3 linked regions of the Homo sapiens genome follow. The protein of the gene in region 1 interacts with the protein of each later gene in a biochemical or structural test. Each region holds a gene or a part of one and is shown in the gene's direction. Other genes may lie near its edges.

Region 1 (8,455 bases):
GTCTGCCATTGTGACGTGTAGAAGAGAACCTTATCTCCCCACATCACCCTAGTTTAAAGGTCCAATGGGAGAGCCCTAAACATTTAGGCTGTCTATCCTTGGAGGCCTCTTCATAATCCTGGATTTACTAGGATCCATAATCCTCCTGGATCTTATGGTGCAAGAGGTGATGCGTTCTGTCTCTTTATTTTTTAATTTCACAATTAAGAACAGTTTGAAGCCATTTTCATTTCATGGTCAAGCGGAGTATGACATCAGAGAGAAACTTTCATTTGGAGGAGATTTGATCACTCTAAAATGGATGTCTGTGTTATTTACGGTAGTTTTGTAAAAATTGCAAAATCCACACCCATTTTTAAAAACAAGGTGTCATGTATATACACATGTACACATACACATACTTGTTTATACACACTCTAAAATCTTATGAATAACTTGAAATCAAACTGGTTGGTATAGAATATTATTTTATAGTGCTTTGATACTGGTCTTTGGAACATAATCAATTTCTGTCTTTCTAAATATGTGTTTGAAAGGGAAAGCCTAGCAAGTCTATTAATAAGCTCACTTCCCATTTATCCCAGTGTACCTGGAGCATTAAGCTAAGACGTTCATCCACAGGCTTAAAAACTTACATCAAGCACTACTGAACTTTACAAGCTGGAATAAACAATGCCTACTAAATAAAAGATTTATAAAATTGTTCTGTCTTATTTTTGTGATCTCTTGTAAATGTTTTTTTTTTTTTTTTTTTTAAATATCCAAAGAAGACCTGTGAACTATTATTTGTCAGAAGCAATTGCCCTTGGTATCTGATTCTGTTGAAAGAAATGCGTTGATTTGTCCAGACCTTTATCTTAATGTAGTTTGTACCTACTTATTTCACATCTTCTTTCTCTTCTTAATGATGGTCTTAGCTGGTACCCTGGAAACCAGGTAACTGCTGGGGAAAAACACTGAGTAGATATATAGACAACTTGAATATTCTCTGAAAATGGGCATGGAATCTTTATTGTTATATCAAATTTTCTCTAATTATATCTAATCCTTTAAATTTATTGTATCTCTTAAGACATTAGATAAGCCAGTGAACATGAGCTTTTTTCTTTGGCTTAATTATAGTGGACAACTATTAGGAAGGAACTGTGAGGTTGCAAATAGAATATTTTGAAAGATAAAGTACTCTTTATGTGTTTTGGGGTAATGTTTTTGGAGTGGTTTCTCAGGAAATCGTATAAAGACTGGATTTGAAGAATCTAATAATTCCTATTTTGGGGTTGTAATAAGAACTACATATGATATCTAAAAATGACTTAAGTGTGGAATGGCTGGCTCTGAAGGGCTCCTCAACCTCTCAGTCTCAATTAGTGATATCAATTACACTGAAAGTGTTTTCAACAACTGAAAGTGTCAATCAACACTTTCAGTGTAATTGACATCACTAACTAATTTCAGTATATTCAGCTGTATTTTTGTTCCAGCTTGATTAATGAAGCCCGGGGGACCCCAGGAGTATTAAGTTAGAAGTAGGATGTCTCAATCCTAAAGGGGACCAAATATCATGGTTCCTATTTTCTGTCCTTGTGTTTGTAGATATTTGAAATTCTGTATTATATGGGAATTAGCCTGAAAGTGGATTTCATGATATCAAGATGGCCACCTTCCTTGAATTCCCCAGGTCTGCTTATACTTATACTTATGTAACTTAAGAAGTGGCATTTAAGTTCTCTTGAGAAAATACAAGGGTAGTCTTGAAACCACAGCAGTGCCCAGCCTGCCAAAGGAAGGCTTTTGTGAAACGCCTTTCCAGCCACAGCCTTTGAGGCAGACGTCTAGGTAAGTGTCACATGAGAACAGATGTCTGGTAAATGCTCTCAAGAGTAAAAATCAACCATACAGAGTCCATTTCTCACCAGAATATAGTTCAATTGTAATTTTGAGGAGCCACAAGCCTAAGAAGGAAGCAGTGTGATTAAAACAGCATTCTCCTTTTCCCTCTAGAAGTCAGAAATGGGATGAAATGGGAGGCAGAGAGAATGAAATAGTGTGTTTTTCTTCTGCACCCTAAGGATTTAAATAACATAAAAAATTATTTCTTAATGTTTTACAGACTTTCCATACTCAGTACATTTTTGAACAAAAATAGGGAAAGCTGAGATTTTTTGACTCAACAAGGCCGTCAGTGCTGAGAGGTGGTGATTGAGCAGGCTTGGAAGTCTAGGAATACATTCCTGAAAGCTTTAGAGATTTAGAAATAGAAACCATCTGCAAGCACCACAGGGGCCCAGGGCATAAGGAAACACTTCAGGATAATATAGGAAAATGGTGTGCAGTGGAGAAAGCAAAGCATTTACACAATATTTTCCCCTTATCACTTAAGCATTTTATAAACTCTTTTTTTTTTTGGTTCGTTTTGAAGGAGGCAGGACTGGACTTCATTGGTTTGTGTTTTGAACTTCTGTTTGAAGTAGATATTTCAGCAATTTGTACATTGTGTAGGGAGTATAATATTTAGAAAGCATGATTTGGAGGGTTAGGCATGGTGGGGATGGACTTTGGAGCCACAGCACCAGGTTCGAATCTTCTCTCAGCCATTTACTGGTTGTATGATCTTTGGTAAATTGCTTACCTTCTCTGTGCCTCAATTTTATTTAGAAAATGGGAATTGTGATACATGGTTACTGTAAGTATTAAACAAAATTGTCATGCACTTAGGACAATGCCTCCTTATATTCAGTGCATCTTTTTAAAGGAGTGTGAATATCAGTTTTCTTTACTGCATCCTTCATCTATAGCTACTCATATGTTTGTTTCAAAGAGACCATTATTGCAAGACAGGCCAATGGTGGTGCCTTGCTCAGTAGGTAGAATATAGAAGTCTGCGGTTTAGAAAACTCCTCCAGGTGTGGTTAAGAATACGCTAAATACGTCAGTAGTTCATGTGGACTAAGTTTCAAAAGTGGGTAGGTTAATACAACCCAGCCTCCATACTGAATTTGTACTTTTTTTAATTGAAGGAAAAAAATGAAAGTCCTTGGAACTTCAGAGACAGGATTACTGCTTTGATATGTTGAGACCTGGACTCACCCTGATTAGCTGTATGACCTTGGGTGTAGATGTAACTCATTCAGATTCCTGAAAATCCTTAGCTTTGTTGTGTCTTGAATCAGATGTATCATTAGCATTTGAAAGAAGTCTAAGTCATTAGTACTAAGGTTGATAAGCCAACTTAGGTATTTTACATTCCATATTATTCCCACTACCTCCACCCTGCCCCTGCCAAACAGGCATCAGATGCCCACCGCCTCCATACCTGGAGTAAAACTGAAAGTTGTATTATGTAGGAATGTAAAGATGTTGTGATCTATTGACAAATCTTTGGAAGGAATTATCCCCGTGGGGACCTTAGAAATCAGGAACTCTGAACAACAAAACAAAAAAGTCTTTGGAATTTCAGCTATTTGGGGTGGATCAATTCTGGAACTGGTCTTAACATTTCAGACATTTACTTCAGGGATATGCCCAAGGATTTGCTTTTGTCCTTCTGGACACTTTGTTGTTGAGCAAAGGTGAATTCACTCTCATTTTGGGTAAATTGTTGTTTAACAGCTTCCTTAAACAGGTTTTTGTATCTTACGGATTCTGGAGGGAAGTCATATATTTTACTCTATCTGTCAGGTGTTCACTGTAAGGAAGGGGATTTTAGATATAGTGGTTATGTCTTTTAAAAAGTTTCCTAGGATTTCAATCCGTGTAGATGGAGCTACACTGTACTTCTCCTAAGCCTTGGCCATTTTATCTTAGGTAATATGGACTCTTCAGGGGGGGAAAAAAGGGGAAGGGGGGCTCTTGAATAAAATGGGTAGCCTTTTCACATATTGACATCTTCAGTATTAATTTAGAGAGAGCGATACTAACTTCTTCAATGAAAAATTATTTATGGAAGAGATCCAGTGTATACTTCTAATATTTCATCAGTATTACGTTAAATTGCTTGTAGATTAGAGGTGCTTCTTGTCATAGTGAATGGAGACTAATACCTTAAGTCATTCCTTTCTAGTATGATGATTGTGGTTGCTCTTACTGAGGACTATAAATGTGGATTTGGTTGATACTTTCACGTTTCTCCTTGGACATTGCAGATGGAAGTCATAACCCCAAATGTCTTACTTATCTGCAATTTTGCTCTGAGATATGGACCAGGCTCTAGCAGACCGTCTGCCACTGTGTAGTTAGTGTTGCCTGATTAGAAATAAACCAAGTCCTGCCTAAATTGGTCAATCTGTTTTGTTCCGCGTCCACGCAGGATCCACTTACAGAAAGCCAGTGGCTGCTTTTAACCACTATCGAAACCTCAGTCCTTTGTAAGTACTTTCCTTGGAGCAGAAGGTTTAAAAGCTCATGACTAAACACTCATTTTGGAACTCAAAATAATCTTAGAGAAGTTAGTGGGTTGCTCAGAGTCCCACGAGCTGCTTATGGGCTGCGTGGAAACCCAGGTTATTTCCCCATAAAGCCTCACTCCTGCTGCCCCTCTCTTCTGAGAGAGAAGCAGAGAATGTCTAATTGAGTCACTCTTACTCACTGTCTGCAACGTAAAACTTTTTTTTCTACCATTTTTTTTTGTACCCTAGAACCATTAAAAAAAAAACCAGTCTGGATCCTATATCCGTCTCATGATCTCCCCCAGAGGAGACCTCTTCGGCCTTTTAATACACCACACATGCCCCAGGGGGACGGTGCAGTCACTACCTGCTGCCACTTCATCCACAGGCCATCTTCCCCTCAACTTACTCCTTTCTGCTTCTTACATTATGTGCACGTGGTTTCCTTTATATGCCAAAAAGTATATGGCATGCACTGAAATAACTTTCTTCATAAAACTAAACTTTAGTTTTTCTAAAATTTAAGTTAAATCCTTGTTTTTCTCCCAAAATGCACAGTGGTTGGGGGCTGGGAAGCTGGCGATGGTGGGTATGTGTTTGAAAAGAACGCCAGCTGGCTTTAGACTTATTTGGGGGCTATAGAGCAAGCGGAGCAGTCAGGCATCCCACCCACCCCTGAAATGCTCGGGGCCCTCTTGGCAGATCCAGTGTGCACGTTGTCGTGGCAGGTGGTGGATGGAGAGCTTTTATGCCGATTTCTAGCGTTATCTGGCTTATTGGTTTGAGAGCTGCATACAACGGGATGTTTAATCTTTTTTATTTAAAATTACCATTTATAGTATTTGGGGTGATTTAGAGGATTTAAAAAATCTGTTAGATTCTGAAGTAGTCCTTAAAATATGGAACATAAGTGCTTAAGATGCTAAAACACTTTCTAAAGCATACTATTGGGATGTTTGAAACTGATGTTGGTAAATGTAAACTGTGTGCATTTGTGTTTGGATAATCTGTGATAAGTTTAGTTTTTGATGAGACACAATTTTAATTTCACATTTAAAATGACATATTGAGGTCAATAAGAGCAGGTTTGAATTTACATTTTCCAGAGAAACCCACAATTAATAGGTAACTTTTATTTTCATAATGCTTTTAATTATTACACTTACGTAGATTCAGAAATGGATATATTCCTAAAATAAACCAAAATTAAAACTTCTTTGTCTTTTTAAAGAAAAGCTGTGGTTCTATTAGAGAAAAATACTTCTTTTTTAAGTTTATGAAGAAATAGCTGTTAGATAAAAACTTTTCCTGGTTGAGCTTTCTAAATTACAAATTTCCTGAATTGCATGGCAAAGTGACTTTGAAAAGACCCACTTCATTTTTCCTTTGACAGTCTATTCAAAACACCATTACCACGTAGACTAATACAATAACCAAGGTAAATAGTAACAAGATCTAATGGGGGAAATAGTGTATCAAAAGGGGGAAAACAGTATCCACTGACAGAGAGAACTAGCTGTTTCTTAAAGAGACAGAGAAGAAAGGTTTCCTCGGAGTTATTGGGTCTTCATAGGATGGTCTCCTGTCCTTCTCTGAGCTTGCCTTGGAAACTGTAGAGGCTGTAGGAATATTTGCTGTCTTTAACCCTTACTAATGTTCTCAGCTATTTCATTAGAGGATCACAGTGTCTGTATTTGCCTTAGGTGTAAGATGATTGGAGAAAAGGAAAATGTAGAGAAATCAGATTGACTTTAGATGGACAGGCAGAGAGTTCTGGAGTGACTTCCCACTCCTTAATTCTGCAATGCACCCAGAAGGCAGGGTGAGGTTAGATGATCACCTGGGTATTTACTATAGCCATTATTACTGTGATTAGATAAAGTGTCCTGGAATCTTCTCTGAATAACTCATTTTTCTTTTTTTTTTTTTTCTTTTTTTCGTTTTGCTCTGTCGCCCAGGCTGGAGTGCAGTGGCGCAATCTCAGCTCACTGCAACCTCAGCCTCCTGGGTTCAAGCGATTCTCCTGCCTCAGCCTCCCGAGTAGCTGGGATTACTGGCACCCGCCACCATGCCCAGCTAATTTTTTCGTATTTTTAGTAGAGACAAGGTTTCACCATGTTGGTCAGGCTGGTCTTGAACTCCTGACTTCGTGATCCACCTGTCTTGGCCTCCCAAAGTGCTAGGATTACAGGTGTGAGCCACCGCACCCGTCCTTTTTTCTTTTTAGACAGTCTCACTCTGTCGCCCAGGCTGGAGTGCAGTGGCGCAATTTCTGCTCACCACAACCTCTGCCTCCTGGGTTCAAGCAATTCTCGTGCCTCAGCCTCCCTAGTAGCTGGGACTACAGGTGTACGCCACCAAGCTTGACTAATTTTTATATATATATATATATACAATATTTTTTTTGACAGAGTCTCGCCGTGTCGCCCAGGCTGGAGTGCAGTGGCACGATCTCGGCTCACTGCAACCTCCGCCTCCCAGGTTCAAGCAATTCTTTTGCCCCAGCCTCCAAAGTAGCTGGGCCTACAGGTGCCGCCACTATGCCCGGCTAATTTTTTTGTATTTTTTAGTAGAGATGGGGTTTCACTATATTGGCCAGGCTGGTCACAAACTCCTAACCTCAAGTGATCTGCTCTCCTTGGCCTCCCAAAGTGCTGGGATTACAGGCGTGAGCCACCATGCCCGGCCAATAACTCATTTTTCTAAGGAAGAAAGAATCTCGATTAACAATTGGTGATGACAGTGCCTCCAAAGGCTTCTCATAATCACCCAACCTCAGGTAAACAGGGTGAATGCCACCCTATTGACAGGAGGTTTATTGTGGCACTGGGTTTTGCTCAGTAGCCCTGGTGATCTGTTGTTGAGAACCCAAGCTCATATTTCCCAAGGCTCACCCAACTGGACTTTAGAAACCTGGTTCCAGAATTTTCAAATGTTTGGTTTTCAGGCAGATAGTAACAAGTGTTTGTACCAATGTTCTCCAGAAGGTTGTTAAGACAAGATTGATAATGCTTCCCAGGTATGTGTTTCTTTTTCTGACTCACAGCTGCATGTTACTAGTTTTCCTCATCTGACCCGATGATTGACTGATGGAAAGTCTCATTGAAGGTTTGGTTATCCTTTCATTGGTAGAAGAGACAAAAACAGGACATAAGTGGCTTATTCCATTCACCTCTACTTTTCTATTGTAACTGGATTTATTTCTGCCATCCAGACAGAGAGCCTGGGCTTTGATTTCATCTGTACCAAAGTTTTCTGGGTGGACAGGTACAGGGGGTCATCGTAAGAGAACTCAACTGACCACAATGCAGAGAGAGGTAACTATCCAATGGAATGGTAACATGGTTCCACTACGGTAAGAACTGTAGTGTTAAATGAAATGAATTCTTAATGGGAAAGGAGTCCTATGAATATTTCTAAGTTGTTATGTTTAACTTAACTAACTCTTAAATGCAGGGAATTTAACTTAAAAGTGAATTTAACAAAGAAGTGAATTTAAAAGCCAACAAGCTTCATATCTCTCCACCTCACCCCAAACCCGTGTTAATTAGCCCTTCTTGCTTAAATCAAATCACCTTGTTGAAATTTAATGCTGTGACTAGCAATGTATTCTTTGACCATATCCTTGTTTCCAGCAACAAATACTGCCACGTTAAGGGGAGAAGGAAGTGATGGATAGAGGGACCAGTTGGCAGATTGGGACACACGTACAAACACTATTCCTTTAACTTGCTTTCTTTAGATCCGTAGTTCCTACCTGTGAGTCTCATTTCTGTATTGATCCGCATTGGCTAAGCATACGACTAAAGCGGGATTCTTTGTCTTTTCTTCAGTGAGCTAGCCAGGAATCTCAGAAAAAGGGCAAAGAAGTCCAGAATGATGTAATGCTGCAAAAAATGTTACTGCTGTTTCTAAGGGGAGTGGAAGAAACCCAAGCCAGTTTTGAGTTGAGTGTGCTTCCTGTTGGAAGGGGGTGAGAATTCAGAGATGTATACCTATTAAAAAAAAAACAAAACTCTTAGGATATCACACAGCGTGGCAAACCAGCAAGCCCTGACCTGTTAGCAGTT
Region 2 (7,000 bases), on another chromosome or scaffold:
TTGGAGGACTTTTCAAAGGTTAGCAGTGGATTTAATACTAAATTTGTAAGGAAGTAGCCTGGACTTATATTTAATACAGACTCTTTGAAAGTCTGTGTTATTAAGTGCAATAGAGGATTTAATTGGTGAAATTTTCGCATATTAGAATTTTTTTTTTTTAAGACAGGGTCTCACTCTGTTGCCCAGGCTGGAGTACAGTGGTGCCATCTCGGCTCACTGCAACCTCCACCTCTCAGGTTCAAGTGATTCTCCCACCTCAGCCTGCCGAGTAGCTGGGATTACAGGCACACACCACCACACCCAGCTAATTTTTATATTTTTTGGTCAGGACAGGGTTGGGACGGGGTTTCACCATGTTGGCCAGGCTGGTCTCGAACGCCTGACCTTAAGTGATCGGCTCACCTCGGCCTCCCAAAGTGCTGGGATTACAGGCATGAGCCACCAAGCCTAGCCAACAGTTTAGAATTTCTCATTTAATTATTCTGCTTTTACATTTTTCAGAAATTTCTCGCAGTCTTCCAAAATGTAAAAACAAAGAGGTTTTCTAAGACATAGTGAAAAATACATTTCTGTGATATCTTTTAAGTTTATTTCATAATGCTTTACTATGCACCCTCTTTGAAAGGGACAAATGTGGATTCCAATTATGGAAAAGTCGCCTGGTTATTGCTTTCTAAAGGACTGAAAAAGCTAATGGCACAAGAGAGAAGACAATACCCTAAAATTATTAAGGCAGGCCCAAAGAGCTCTTGTTGACTATACCTTTAGCGAATTCTTCAACATGCAACCACTCTTTCTCAACTTGCGTTCTTTATTTAGGAAAACTAGGAATCCAACCAAAAAGTACAAAAGCCTAGAAATAAGTGAAATCTCTATGTATTTCATCCAAAAGACCACTGGGATGGCTAGATAGTAGAAAGGAGAGCTTTATTGATGATATCAGTTTGCAAACTGGGAAGAGACAGCCTCCAGCATGTGTGGAAGGTGCCCTCTCTTCCAAGAGAGGAAGGGCAGGTTGGGTTTTATGCCTCACAGGGCCTGTATCACACAGTAGAGTCATACATATTCAGTAGGTTTTGGGGGAAAGCTATCCATATTTATGAGGGGAGCTGAGCACATGCAGAATGAGTAAACATATATGTAACATACATCCCATGTTTACTTCGGGGCAGGGTTTTAGTGTTAGAATGAGGTGAAATTTGGCTCTTCATGTCAAAAGGTGAACTGTAGGACATAAACACAGTTTGTGCACCGCATCTATAAGCTGCTAAAACTGGCTTAAGGTCTGCAATTGCTTACCAGGAAAGAATGTGTGTAAGGTCAGTCTTCTGTCTAGTCAGAGTTATAGTGGTCTGGTTAGTAAATCAGGGTAAGGAGGGGGTCTCATAGCGCCTATTGTTAGGGAATTTCAATCATTAGGAATTTAGTAATTTGCCCTCCAGCCAGGCCTTGAACCCTGGACCCATCTTAGTTGATATAGGAGTGTCTATTTTGGCCCCACAGATCACATATATTCATCAGAATAGTCCGAATCTTATTTTCCTTCTTAACTTGCAATGAGTGAATATACAACGAAGTAGATGTTCATGTTCCGGCTAATTTTAGTTCATCAGCATTTTCTGGAAGCAACCAAAAGTCATATGTATTTAGACAGCTGTGATTTCTGCCAATTCAGCTTGCTTCGGGAACTGAGGGGATTCAATCTTACTTTATGCCCAAATCTGTTTGCTTGTGGCTGTTAGCATTAATCTTTTAACCTTTGATTTGCATTCATCTGAAAAGCTAGAGATGATTGTCCTTAATAATTAGTGCCATTCTTCTGTATTTTTGCTTGGATTACCCATGAAAACTAAATGAGACTTTAATTTACTGAGTAAAGCTCTGTCATTATTTTATCAGTTCTAAAGGGCAAGCGTGATTTATTATACAAATAAAACTAAGGAATGGTTATGTGACTTGTCCTTAAATTCCTGCAGCCAAGTGGATTTGGAATTCCTTTTCTAATCTGAGATTTATCTTCGCAGGAACCACATTGACTTGACACGCCTCACAACACAAAGGATAAATTCCATGCCCCTTTGGCTGGAATATGCTAGTAGATCTATTTTCAGAAGTTAATCTCAGATTTGAGATATTTTAATTCTTCTTCTTATTTATTCCCTGGGATGAGTCCAGTGCTCTGCATACATTCTTAATGCTTTAGGTGAAAGAAGGATCAGGCCAAGAGAAACATTCCTCCCCATGGAACAAGGGGTGGGAAGGGATATAAGAACTCAATGTAGAGTCAGAAGATCTCAATGCTGGAATCATCCACGTTCATTTTTAGAGAAGGAAATTAGGTTCAGAATGAGAAGTGAAGGTGAAGTCTACCTGTTGACCTTGTCTTTGGTAACTAACAAATGATTGGACCCAATGGGAACATTGCTATTTTATGCATTGGATACTTTGAAGATGAAAACTTCATTATAAACCAATGATTATTTAAGAGTTGATATTTATAAGTCACATGTTCATAACAGCATTCCATTTGAATTGAACTGTCTATTTAAGATAAATCCAGCTGTGATAGAAGGCATGGTCTCCATTTTGAACCGGGTTTCTGACCATATGAAACTCAAAGAAGTCTAAAAGTTTCTCTGATGTCTATCTACCATTTGCAGAAATGAAGATCAGATATTATATATTTACAAACTCCAGTGGTAAATATATGTGGATAGACTGTATGTACAGTTAGACATGATTTAAGTTTTTGCTTCTTCCTAGATAGCTGTTTCTATTATGCTACTCTTTATAGCAATAAGAACTTAGGAATCCCCCAACATGAACCAAGCACTGTGCTGGTAAAGAACAACAACAAAAACAGTAGAAGACACTGTGTCTGCCCTCCAGGACCTGACAGTTGAGGTAGAGAAAGAAAATGTATTTGCTTGAAAGTAAGAGGATAGTAGGAAATTAGCATATAGTCAGAATCTATGGGGAAGGATCATGGATGATATGTTTACAGCTTAAAGGAAGAGAGCTACTGATGGACACTAGAAGTCAGGAAAGGCTTCATAGCAGTTGTAGGACTGTGGTGGAATCTTGAAGTGTGTGTAGGATATGAACCAGAAGAGAAAAGGGATGGATTCTAAGCACAGAGAACAAGTATGACATAGTAACACTGATGACAAGTGTGAAGGGATAAAAATACATATGGTAAATTCAAGAGATATTTAATAAAGGAGTCTTGTCAGAGTTGAAGATTCATTTTGGCAAGTGGTGGAAGATGAGGCCTCATAAATGGATGATGAAAGGTCTTTGCACTGAACTAGAGTTTAAACTTAATTTCATATACAATAGAGAGCTACTGAGGCTATAATCAAAAATCTGGCATAAATAGAGTATAATCTCGTCTGTGGTATGCTATCCTGTCTGTGATATGAAACATATGTTAAGTCCTTGTGAGTTCAGCTTTTTGTCCCAGCTAATTATCATCATTATTAAGGATTATCTTTCAAAATATCTTATAAAGTGAGGCACTGCAAAGAGAGAACGAAAAGAAACTAGAAAGCTCTGGGGTTTCAAGAAAGTTGCCAAAAGTCTGCTTATCTTCATATATCACCTGACACTCAAACTTACATTTTGGTAACAATCCTCTGAACTGTTTATTTCCAATGTTTTTACATTTACTGTGGGGGGAAAATGCCCCCAAACGTCTTGCTAACCCATTTAGCTTGGGGCCAATACTAGATTCATCCCATCCTCCCAAAACACTAACTGGAAAGTCAAGGACAAGGTGGCAGGCAGCTGATAGTCTATCACTTATTATTCCTCTTATCACTTGCAGGATCTTGAATGTGTTAGACTGTTCTAATTCTCTGATCCCAAGAAAACTTGGAGGTAACTCTTTCAAGAGAAAACAATAAGGTTCTGACTGTTGAGCTAAAAACTAAAGACGCTGCTTGCTGTTGGGTTCTTTGACTCAGGGGAGAGTCCCAGGAGAAAGTCACCATGCTGATATGGTCTGTCCCACAGGTGGCTCCAGTGATTAAAGCCAGAATGATGGAGTATGGAACCACAATGGTCAGCTACCAACCCTTGGGAGACAAGGTCAATTTCTTCCGCATGGTCATCTCAAACCCAGCGGCAACTCACCAAGACATTGACTTCCTGATTGAAGAAATAGAACGCCTTGGACAAGATTTATAATAACCTTGCTCACCAAGCTGTTCCACTTCTCTAGGTAGACAATTAAGTTGTCACAAACTGTGTGAATGTATTTGTAGTTTGTTCCAAAGTAAATCTATTTCTATATTGTGGTGTCAAAGTAGAGTTTAAAAATTAAACAAAAAAGACATTGCTCCTTTTAAAAGTCCTTTCTTAAGTTTAGAATACCTCTCTAAGAATTCGTGACAAAAGGCTATGTTCTAATCAATAAGGAAAAGCTTAAAATTGTTATAAATACTTCCCTTACTTTTAATATAGTGTGCAAAGCAAACTTTATTTTCACTTCAGACTAGTAGGACTGAATAGTGCCAAATTGCCCCTGAATCATAAAAGGTTCTTTGGGGTGCAGTAAAAAGGACAAAGTAAATATAAAATATATGTTGACAATAAAAACTCTTGCCTTTTTCATAGTATTAGAAAAAAATTTCTAATTTACCTATAGCAACATTTCAAATGTATTTAAATACATATAATTTTACAAAAGGAAAATATATATATTAAAAAAGATATCCTATTTTGTAACATATAGATTTTTATTTTATATAGGTTATACAAACTGCGGGGGCAGATATAAAATCTAAGCCAGATTTTTTTTTCCTTTCTCTTAATGGAGGCACAATAAAACACTTAGCAAAGTTATTTTGAAACATTGACCCACGAAATTCTTAAAAGGTATTATTGCTTCTTTCTATACATGTTATGGCTTATCACATCTCTAAAGTTAGTATTTCAAGACAAACACAAAAGAATACTGCGAGTTCTTTAAAATAATTGATCCCATTGGCAGTAAGATTCTCTTCCCCTTTAAGTTTTCCACCCATTTTACTCTTAGCGGACTCACTCTGCAAGCGTGACAAACCAGGCTTCATCTCAGATTAAATTAGGGTAATTGTCTCTATTCTGCTTTCCAGTTCGGCCTGTTTTGAACAGAAGGTTGATGCTAGTTCTTGAGGCATCTTCCAAATAGTATTCTTTTATTAGGTCATTTGAATTAATTAGAGAAAGTAAAAATAAAACCTTATCAGCCTGAGCAAAGAGGAATGAAGCACACTCCCAGAATGTGGTGAGCCCAGAAAATTAAAGTTGGCCTTGGGAGAAGAGATCTCTGTGGGACAATAATGACATCATCCTGGCGCCATATTGCCACTGTCCAGGAAAGAGAAATTTACCTCCAGGCCAGTTGCGCATTTCCATCCCCTCCCCATTCCTCCCCACAAAGTCTCTCCCACTAGACTCCCTACCACTGGGACCCAAAATAGTTACTTTATATTCCATGGGTGGTTGTTTTTCTTCCATGAAATGAGCCTCTCACCCTAGATTTTGAGGCATTATCTTAAGATTTTCCTTTATCCATCTCCCATCGAGATCCAAAGTGACCAGAATATGCAGAAATAATAAGATCCTTAGAATTCAAAATAGTATTTTTAAAACATCCTTCTTTCCCTGTGAACCTGATAGAAAAACATGAGCTAACAAAAGCTTCCATAGATATTTATGGGGTCACACATCGTCAGATTCCAAGTGCTGATTGGAGAACAATAGATTGATATGCAGACTGCAAATGCAAATTTAGGAACATTCTCCATTTCTGAATGGACCAGGTAGTTCAGTACTCAGACTGCAGGTATACAAGGGAAGAGAGAAGGCCCTGCCCTTCAACGGGTAGAAATGCCCTACAATATAACATAGAGAAATGCCCTATAATATAACCACAGGATCCAGCCATCTGAAATTTTCATAAGCTTCCCCCTACATTATTTCTCCTAGGCTATATGCAAAAACAGTGATAACTTGATATGAACATGGCTTTGGGCCCTTTCTGTCTAGAAAAACAAATGGGTTCACTATGACAATCAGAAATAAACTCTTTCATCTGTCCCGCAGAATTTCATGAAGGAGTAACCTTCCATTCTAGGCTTTGTCTAATGGCCAAGCATTAGACAAAGCATTAGAAAGCAGTTCCTTTCTCAAAACTGCCTGCTGAGAATAAGCACATAGCTGCCCGACTATCCGGAGCCTCAGGCCCAAAGGTTCCACTTCAGAGACAGAGATGCTAATTGATCCAACCTGCTGTCCTTCGTGGAGAAGACAGTGGGGCCCAGTGCCCTGGTGAACCAACCCTGCTGTACTCCAGGATGCTTTATCTTTTGAGTTACAGATCCTAGATTATAAACTGCTGCTTTTTAGGTTAATGAGATGGTAAAATTTTAAAGGACAATTTGTGCCTATATATGAAATTCCAGCAAAACAATTCTAGCAACAACAATAGCTCTTCTTCCCCGCTCCCCTACCCCTTCCCAGTACTCCTTCAAATTGGCTGAGAGCCTTGCTCAGGCCTGTGCAGGGAAATCCTTACCAACTGTAGCCCAAAGAAGGAAGCAAATAAAAGCCTAGTAGGTCCCAGTAGTTTAATAAATCATCTTGAAAGGAGATGTGGAATCAGGTCAGAAGAGAGTAAGGGAGGAAGGGAGGGAGGGAGGGAGGGAGGGAAGGAGGGAGGGAGGAAGGAAATGAAGGGAGGGAGGGAGGGAGGAAAGAAGGGAGATTATTTTTAATATTAGCCCAAATTCCCAGTGCCATGGTCTTTATGTGTGCCCATTCTTTACAAATCTTAGAAAAGTTTGGTTTTAGCTTTAATCAGAACTGACATGGCCATTTTCATTTATACAGCAATATTGTGTTTATCATTTAAAATACTTGAACAAACAAGTGTGATATGTCTTTATCTGAGACCTATACATGGTATGGACTTCATATACTGCCACAGGATGTGAGGAAAGAAAAGGAAATCAAT
Region 3 (7,000 bases), on another chromosome or scaffold:
CAGCCTGGCCAATATGGTGAAATCCTATCTCTACTAAAAATACAAAAATTAGCCGGGCTGTGGTGGCACGCGCCTGTAATCCCAGCTACTCAGGAGGCCAAGGCAGGAGAATCGCTTGAATCCGGCAGGTGGAGGTTGCAGTGAACCGAGATTATGCCACTGCACCCCAGCCTGGGCGACATAGCAAGACCCTATCTCAAAAATAATAATAAAGTAAATAAAAACAACAGCCCTGTTTAACGTGGGGTAGTCTTTACAGGTCAGAAGTTTTTGGGCATTGGCTGGGTGCCGTGGCTCACGCCTGTAATCCCAGCACTTTGGGAGGCTGAGGTGGGTGGATCACCTGAGGTCAGGAGTTCAAGATCAGCCTGGGCAACATGGTGAAACCCTGTCTCTACTAAAAATACAAAAATTAGCTGGGCATGGTGGCAGGCACTTGTAATCCCAGCTACTTGGGAAGCTGAGGCAGTTGAATCGCTTGAGTCCGGGAGGCAGATGTTGCAGTGAGCCGAGATTTCACCAGTGCACTCCAGCCTGGGCGACAAGAGTGAAACTCCATCTTAAAAAAACAAAAAACAAACAAAAAAAGGTTTTTGGGTATCATTACATGATGTTATAATTTGATGATCAAAATAAGAACTTGAATATTTAAAAAAGATTAAAATATGTTCTGAACTGAGAAGTTTCAGAGTATTTAACAGTTTAAAAAGTTCTCATCACAACAATTTTAAACATTTTTTTCTTGAGAGTGATTTAATGTACTCCTGAATTTCCCTTATTCGGAGCTCTTTGTTCTTGAGCATACTGGACAGATGAGTTGCTATCATATCAGCATTTACTCTTATGTGTTTTCCGTAGCTTTTCTGGAAGTATAAAGAAGTTTAACAAGGGATATGATTTTCAGTGTAGGGAAAAAGATATGTTTTTGTTATTGTTTTGTTTTGTTTAGAGTCAGTGTCTTGCTATATTGCCCAGTCTAGTCTAGAATTCTCGGGCTCAAGTGATCCTCCTGTCTCAACTTCCCAAGTAGGTAGGATTACAGGTGCATGCCACGGTGCCTGGAATCATGTTTTTTGAGGGGAGGGATTATTTTAGTTTTCTTCGTATAGCTTTTCAGACTTTTGGGGTTTAACTATTCACCAAGAGAAATAATTTATTGCTATTTCATGCTTCAGCCATAGAGAGAATTACAAAATTATTCAAACATCAATTTTACCAACCTATAAAAGACCCATTTTCTTATAGCCTTGATTTCATCCTTATTAGCGTTACTTATTAGTACAGAAACAAATTCCTGTTATGACATCATTTTTTTTAAGCAACATTGAGTCTATACCATATGCCTGACACTGAGTTGCTAATAAGAAAAATATAGACATGGTTTTTGTCCACAGGGAACTCAAGATGAAATTGGCAGATAAAAACAGAATTTACTACTCTCTTATTATAAAATAATGCTATAGTAGCACCGTAAGTAAATTGCTATGAAGTTTGTGGATAGGGGGCTTCACATTATCCTATTAATGAGACATTGCTCAAACTTTAAACCTTTTATTTCAAGATTCTGGTGGAATTTTGTATGTATTTATTAGAAAGTTATTTAAGGCTTTTCTATAACTATGAATGTATGTTTCATTCTTTCATTAAAACAGAAAGTTAAGAAATTTTACCTGCTGCTTGGTTTTGTTTTAATGGCAAAATATTAGAACTAATGTGCAGAGTTAACCAGTGGTTTAAATCATTCAAAGAAAATAATAGTGTTTAGACGGTCTTACTTTAATGTCTTACCAGTGGGTACTTCCTAGACTGTGAATCGTCTCTGCTCAGTTGAGTGAATCATCTCTACTCAGTTCCGTTCAGAACGTAATTTAATCTCTTGATTTGATTTGATTTGATTTGATTTGATTTGATTTGATTTGATTTTTTGAGACAGAGTTTCGCTCTGTTGCCCAGGCTGGAGTGCAGTGGTGCGATCTCGGCTCACTGCCACCTTTGCCTCCCAGATTCAAGCGATTCTCCTGCCTCAGCCTCCTGAGTAGCTGGGATTACAGGCGCCCGCCACCATACCCGGCTAATTTTTGTACTTTTAGTAGAGACGGGGTTTCACCATGTTGGCCACGCTGGTCTCGAACTCCTGACCTTAGGTGATCTGCCCACCTCGGCCTCCCAAAGTGCTAAGATTACAGGTGTGAGCCACTGTGCCCGGCCAATCTCTCTCTTTTTTTAATACTCAAGTTCTCATTTTGATCATCCAGTTATAACATATAATGATGCCCAAAAACTTCTGACCTATAAAGACTATCCCAACATTAAATAGGACTGTTGTTTTATAGTCAGTGTTTATGTTCTGTCCTTTCTTGCATTAGTATTCTTCACTAAAACTAGATATCTACTGCCAGATAACTGTTAAATGGTCAGTAGGTTCTTACAATAAGGTGTAAAATCCTAGAAAAAAATGAACAGCTAACATTGTGTAGCCGGGTAAAAGGGCTGGAAGGAATGAGAGAGATGTAGATGTCCAAATTAGTCTTGCCTTGTGGTTTTTCCTTTCTTCAAAAACACCTTCACACATGCACTGCAATTTTTTCACCTTAAATATAGTCACGTTAGGCTATGTAACAAAGGTAGAGGTTTGTTTGCTTTAGTAATAGTTTTTTTTTTTTTTTTAATTAAAACAACTCTGGATAGATTAAGATTCTGTCATTTATATATTAATACGATTTTATGTAGGTGCAGTACTTTTTTTCCTAACCTAAGCTGAAATAATGCCATATTGTAATAAGGGCAGTTTTGATTGCTATCTTGAAGGGTTCAGGATATAGTTTATTTAGAGCATGTAACTCCTTGGGGGATAGTAAAGCAATCCTGGGTGGTTGAGCCAGGAAGTGATTTTTTTTCTGAGGGGCAGGAAATACGGGAACGTGAGATGGAATAGAGAAATATAAAGAGCAGCACTTAAAACTTTGTATTTTGCTACAAAAAATTAGCCGGGCGTAGTGGCGGGCGCCTGTAGTCCCAGCTACTTGGGAGGCTGAGGCAGGAGAATGGCGTGAACCCGGGAGGTGGAGCTTGCAGTGAGCCGAGATCCCGCCACTGCACTCCAGCCTGGGCGACAGAGCGAGACTCCGTCTCAAAAAAAAAAAAAACTTTGTATTTTGCTGGGGCCTCATTTAGGGAAGAAAGGGATAAGAGTTATCTTCCTCCTTATAGGAGGAAACTGCATAGTATATGGCTCTCTTCTTCCCAACTCATGATCATCATTGTATTTTAGTTACATTATTATAATAAATATGCCTGAGTAGGTTAGTTTGGGAAGCTTAACTACAATGTACAATGTTATTTCTTTAGAAAGGTAGTTTGAGGACAACTGGCTTTTCAGAACCTTGTGTCATAATCTGTGGACTACATCTATAAACAACAAATACTAGCAGCTCTAAGTTTATGTGAATTTTGGCCTTATAATCAAGTTAACCCAAATTGCAGAATTCAGTGCTAGACTGATAATGTTTTACTATTTGAATTTTTTTTTTAATGTGGCACAATTCTTTTAAGGTTTCAGGTACGTTCACCAACTTTCTTTCAAAAATCCCGGGACCAGCATTGGTACATTACTCAGTTGGAAGCTGCACAGACTAGTTATATCCAACAAATAAACAACCTTAAAGAGGTAAGAAAATATCTATTTCTGTTTTGGTGTTTCCTATTGTCCTTTTGGCTTGTTATATTTGTAATTAGATTTTATATATTTTATTGCTATTTGTAATTTTGTAATTTGTAATTAGAAAAAAAATCTAGTTATCTTGTTCCCCATCCTTACCAGTTCTGCAGTGTCCAGTTTAGTAGACACTAGCCACATACGGCCATGTAAATTTTTATTTTACTTTATTTATTTATTTTTTTTGAGAAGGAGTCTCGCTCTGTTGCCCAGGCTGGAGTGCAGTGGTGCAATCTCGGCTCACTGCAAGCTCCGCCTCCTGGGTTCACGCCATTCTCCTGCCTCAGCCTCCTGAGTAGCTGGGACTACAGGCGCCTGCCACCACACCGGGCTAATTTTTTTGTATTTTTAGTAGAGACAGGGTTTCACAGTGTTAGCCAGGATGGTCTCGATGTCCTGACCTCGTGATCTGCCCACCTCGGCCTCCCAAAGTGCTGGGATTACAGGCATGAGCCACCACGCCCTGCCACTTTATTTTTATTTTTTTTTATTTTGGAGACAGGTCGGACTCACTCTTGTTGCCAGGCACAATTTCCACTAACTGCAGCTTCAACTTCCCAAGCTCGGGTGATCTTCCCACCTTAGCCTCCCAGGTAGCTGGGACTACGAGCATGTGTCATGGCTAGTTTTTGTTTTTGTGGAGATGGGTTTCTCCATGTTGCCCAAGCTGGTCTTGAACTCCTGGGCTCAAGCAGTCTGCCTGCCTTGGCCTCCCAAAGTGCTGGGATTACAGGTGTGAGCCACTGTGCCTGGTCTGTAAATTTAGCTTAATTAAAATTAAAAATTTAGTTCCTTAGTTGCAGTAGCCACATTTCAAGTGCTTGCATTGGTTACTGCAAATCTAGAGCATTTCCATCATTGCATAAAGTTGTTTTGAACAGTGTGGCTGTAGTTTGAGGTAAGCTGTTTGTGTTTCTGTCAGTGACTTAGTTTCTCTTCCACAAGTTATCTTGGATTTAGAGGATTCTAGGCTATAGCACAATTAAAAGTTGTCCCATCTTGAACTCTTACTATTGTTGAATGAGCACTGGGGAAGATTAATTGATGAATTTTTATTTTACAGTGGTAAACTAAGGAATGTTTCATTTCCCTTAGGAAGTTAGGGTGTGGCAGGAGGTTTGGAGTGCTGAGAGTCGTTAATAGGTCAGGGAGGAAAATGTGAATAAATACATGCTTTCAGAGATTTTCATGTTAAATGTGCTATTTAAAACTGCCTGTATTCACTATACTGTTTGCTAATTGTATGTTTAGCTTAGGCTGGATATGAAAGAAGGAGGATGAGCATAAATGGGGCAGTTTATCTTTGTCATCAATTTTTTTTTATAAATAAAAGGCAGTAGGGATTCAGAGAAATGGTTTAAGAAATGGTGCCAAGTGAGGTGGCTCATTCCTGTAATCCCAGCATGTTGGGAGGCCGAGGCCAGAGGAACATTTGAGCCCAGGGGTTCAAAACCAGCTTGAGCAACATAGCAAGATACCGTCTCTAAAAATAAATAAAAATGAAATTAGCCAAGCATGGTGGCACACACCTCCAGTCCCAGCCACTTGAGAGGCTGAGGCAGTAGGATCGTTTGAGCCCAGTAGTTCAAGGCTTGCAGTGAGCTATGATGGCACCACTGCACTTCAGCCTGGGCAACAGAGTGAGACCATTCTCAAAAAATAAATAAAGCAATGGTTTTAGAAACATCTGGATGCATTTTTTTTTCACTTGAGACATCTTTTACTGTGCCAGTGAGCTGTGGCTAATATTTGTGCTTTTCTTGTTTTAAAAGAGACTTACTATTGAGCTGTCTCGAACTCAGAAGTCAAGAGATTTGTCACCACCAGATAACCATCTTAGCCCCCAAAATGATGATGCTCTGGAGACACGAGCTAAGAAGTCTGCATGCTCTGACATGCTTCTCGAAGGTGGTCCTACTACAGCTTCTGTAAGAGAGGCCAAAGAGGATGAAGAAGATGAGGAGAAGATTCAGAATGAAGATTATCATGTAATAATGAGGCCAGTTTTAGATTTTTGTGTTTGATTAAAAAAAAACAGTAGCATCATGGCTTTTAACATATTATGTGCTAAAACAGTAGGCTAAAAATATTGTCCATTGATTTCCATTAGTAATGTATGTATGCCCTTATGTAAATGTTAATAAGTCAGAAGTTGTTGAATCAAAGCATTTCAAGGTTGTGAAAAAAACAATACATTGTATAAAACAAACCGTGATACACATTTTAAAACCTAAACTACCATACATTGTGGATTTTAAAAATGTGTTCTGGCCGGGTGCGGTGGCTCACACCTGTAATCCCAGCACTTTGGGAGGCCAAGGTGGGTGGATCACATGAGGTCAGGAGTTCGAGACTATCCTGGCCAACATGGCCAAACCCTGTCTCTACGAAAAATACAAAAATTAGCTGGGTGTGGTGGTGCTTGCCTGTAATCCCAGCTACTTGGGAGGCTGAGGTAGGAGAATCACTTGAACCTAGGAGGCGGAGGTTGCAGTGAGCCAAGATTGTGCCACTGCACTCCAGCCTGGGAGACAGAGCAAGACTCTGTCTCAAAGAAAAAGAAAAAAAAAAGGTGTTCTATTTTCATTCACTGAAACTAGTACATGCCTTATCATTACTTACGTAGGTAGACTGATTTAGGATTCGGTAGCTAGCCAGGTTCTATCCCAGCTAAACAACAGTCAGAATCCAGAATAAGAGTTCAAGAAGTAGTTGATATTTTTACATAAGAAGGGATGCATAGACAGTTGGTTTTTTTGTAGTAATTTTTAAGATGAGAGACTTCAGTTTTAAGTTAAAATGAAGGACCCAGTGGGTCGAGAGAATGCACAGATTAAGTGCTTTGATAAACTAGAGATAATAGGGTTTGGAATGGAGCAGTCAGGTGAAGCAGTTAACCTTTGATAAACTGAGTTAAAGGAAGGGTGGAGTTTGCAGGTAAGGCAGCTGAAAAGTTGGGGAAGTTTTTGCTTAATAGTGGGTATTTTTTTTCTGTGCAGATAGGTGACAGTGTTAATTAATGACCTTGATAATGGTAAAATTAGGTAGAATTGAGGAGTGATGGTTTGAAACGTTACTCTGTGAGGAAGCTGATGTGGAATATGTGAAGGATTCCAGTCACACTGAGGGCCCAGCTGAAGGCGGCACGCATAAGTTAGTAAAATGATATCAGTCAGTGTGGTTGTGTGATTTTTCTCTACAGGGCTCAGCAGCTGAGGCACAGGAGCAGAAAATAGATTTTTGAAAACTGTATTATTCTTTGGTGCTTGGTTTATGGGCTGGATG

What was found.
Region 2: the proteins of BASP1 (region 1) and GAD2 form a complex in vitro, tested with the Homo sapiens proteins (one study listed by BioGRID).
Region 3: the proteins of BASP1 (region 1) and TRIM37 form a complex in vitro, tested with the Homo sapiens proteins (one study listed by BioGRID).

What each region holds. Positions count from the first base shown.
Region 1 is NC_000005.10:17,220,631-17,229,085, forward strand, and holds part of BASP1 (brain acid soluble protein 1), read left to right. Parts: intron 1-8,455.
Region 2 is NC_000010.11:26,296,774-26,303,773, forward strand, and holds part of GAD2 (glutamate decarboxylase 2), read left to right. Parts: intron 1-4,014; coding exon 4,015-4,188; 3' UTR 4,189-7,000. UniProt on the Homo sapiens protein: Catalyzes the production of GABA.
Region 3 is NC_000017.11:59,047,881-59,054,880, reverse strand, and holds part of TRIM37 (E3 ubiquitin-protein ligase TRIM37), read left to right. Parts: intron 1-3,552; coding exon 3,553-3,667; intron 3,668-5,487; coding exon 5,488-5,703; intron 5,704-7,000. UniProt on the Homo sapiens protein: E3 ubiquitin-protein ligase required to prevent centriole reduplication. Probably acts by ubiquitinating positive regulators of centriole reduplication.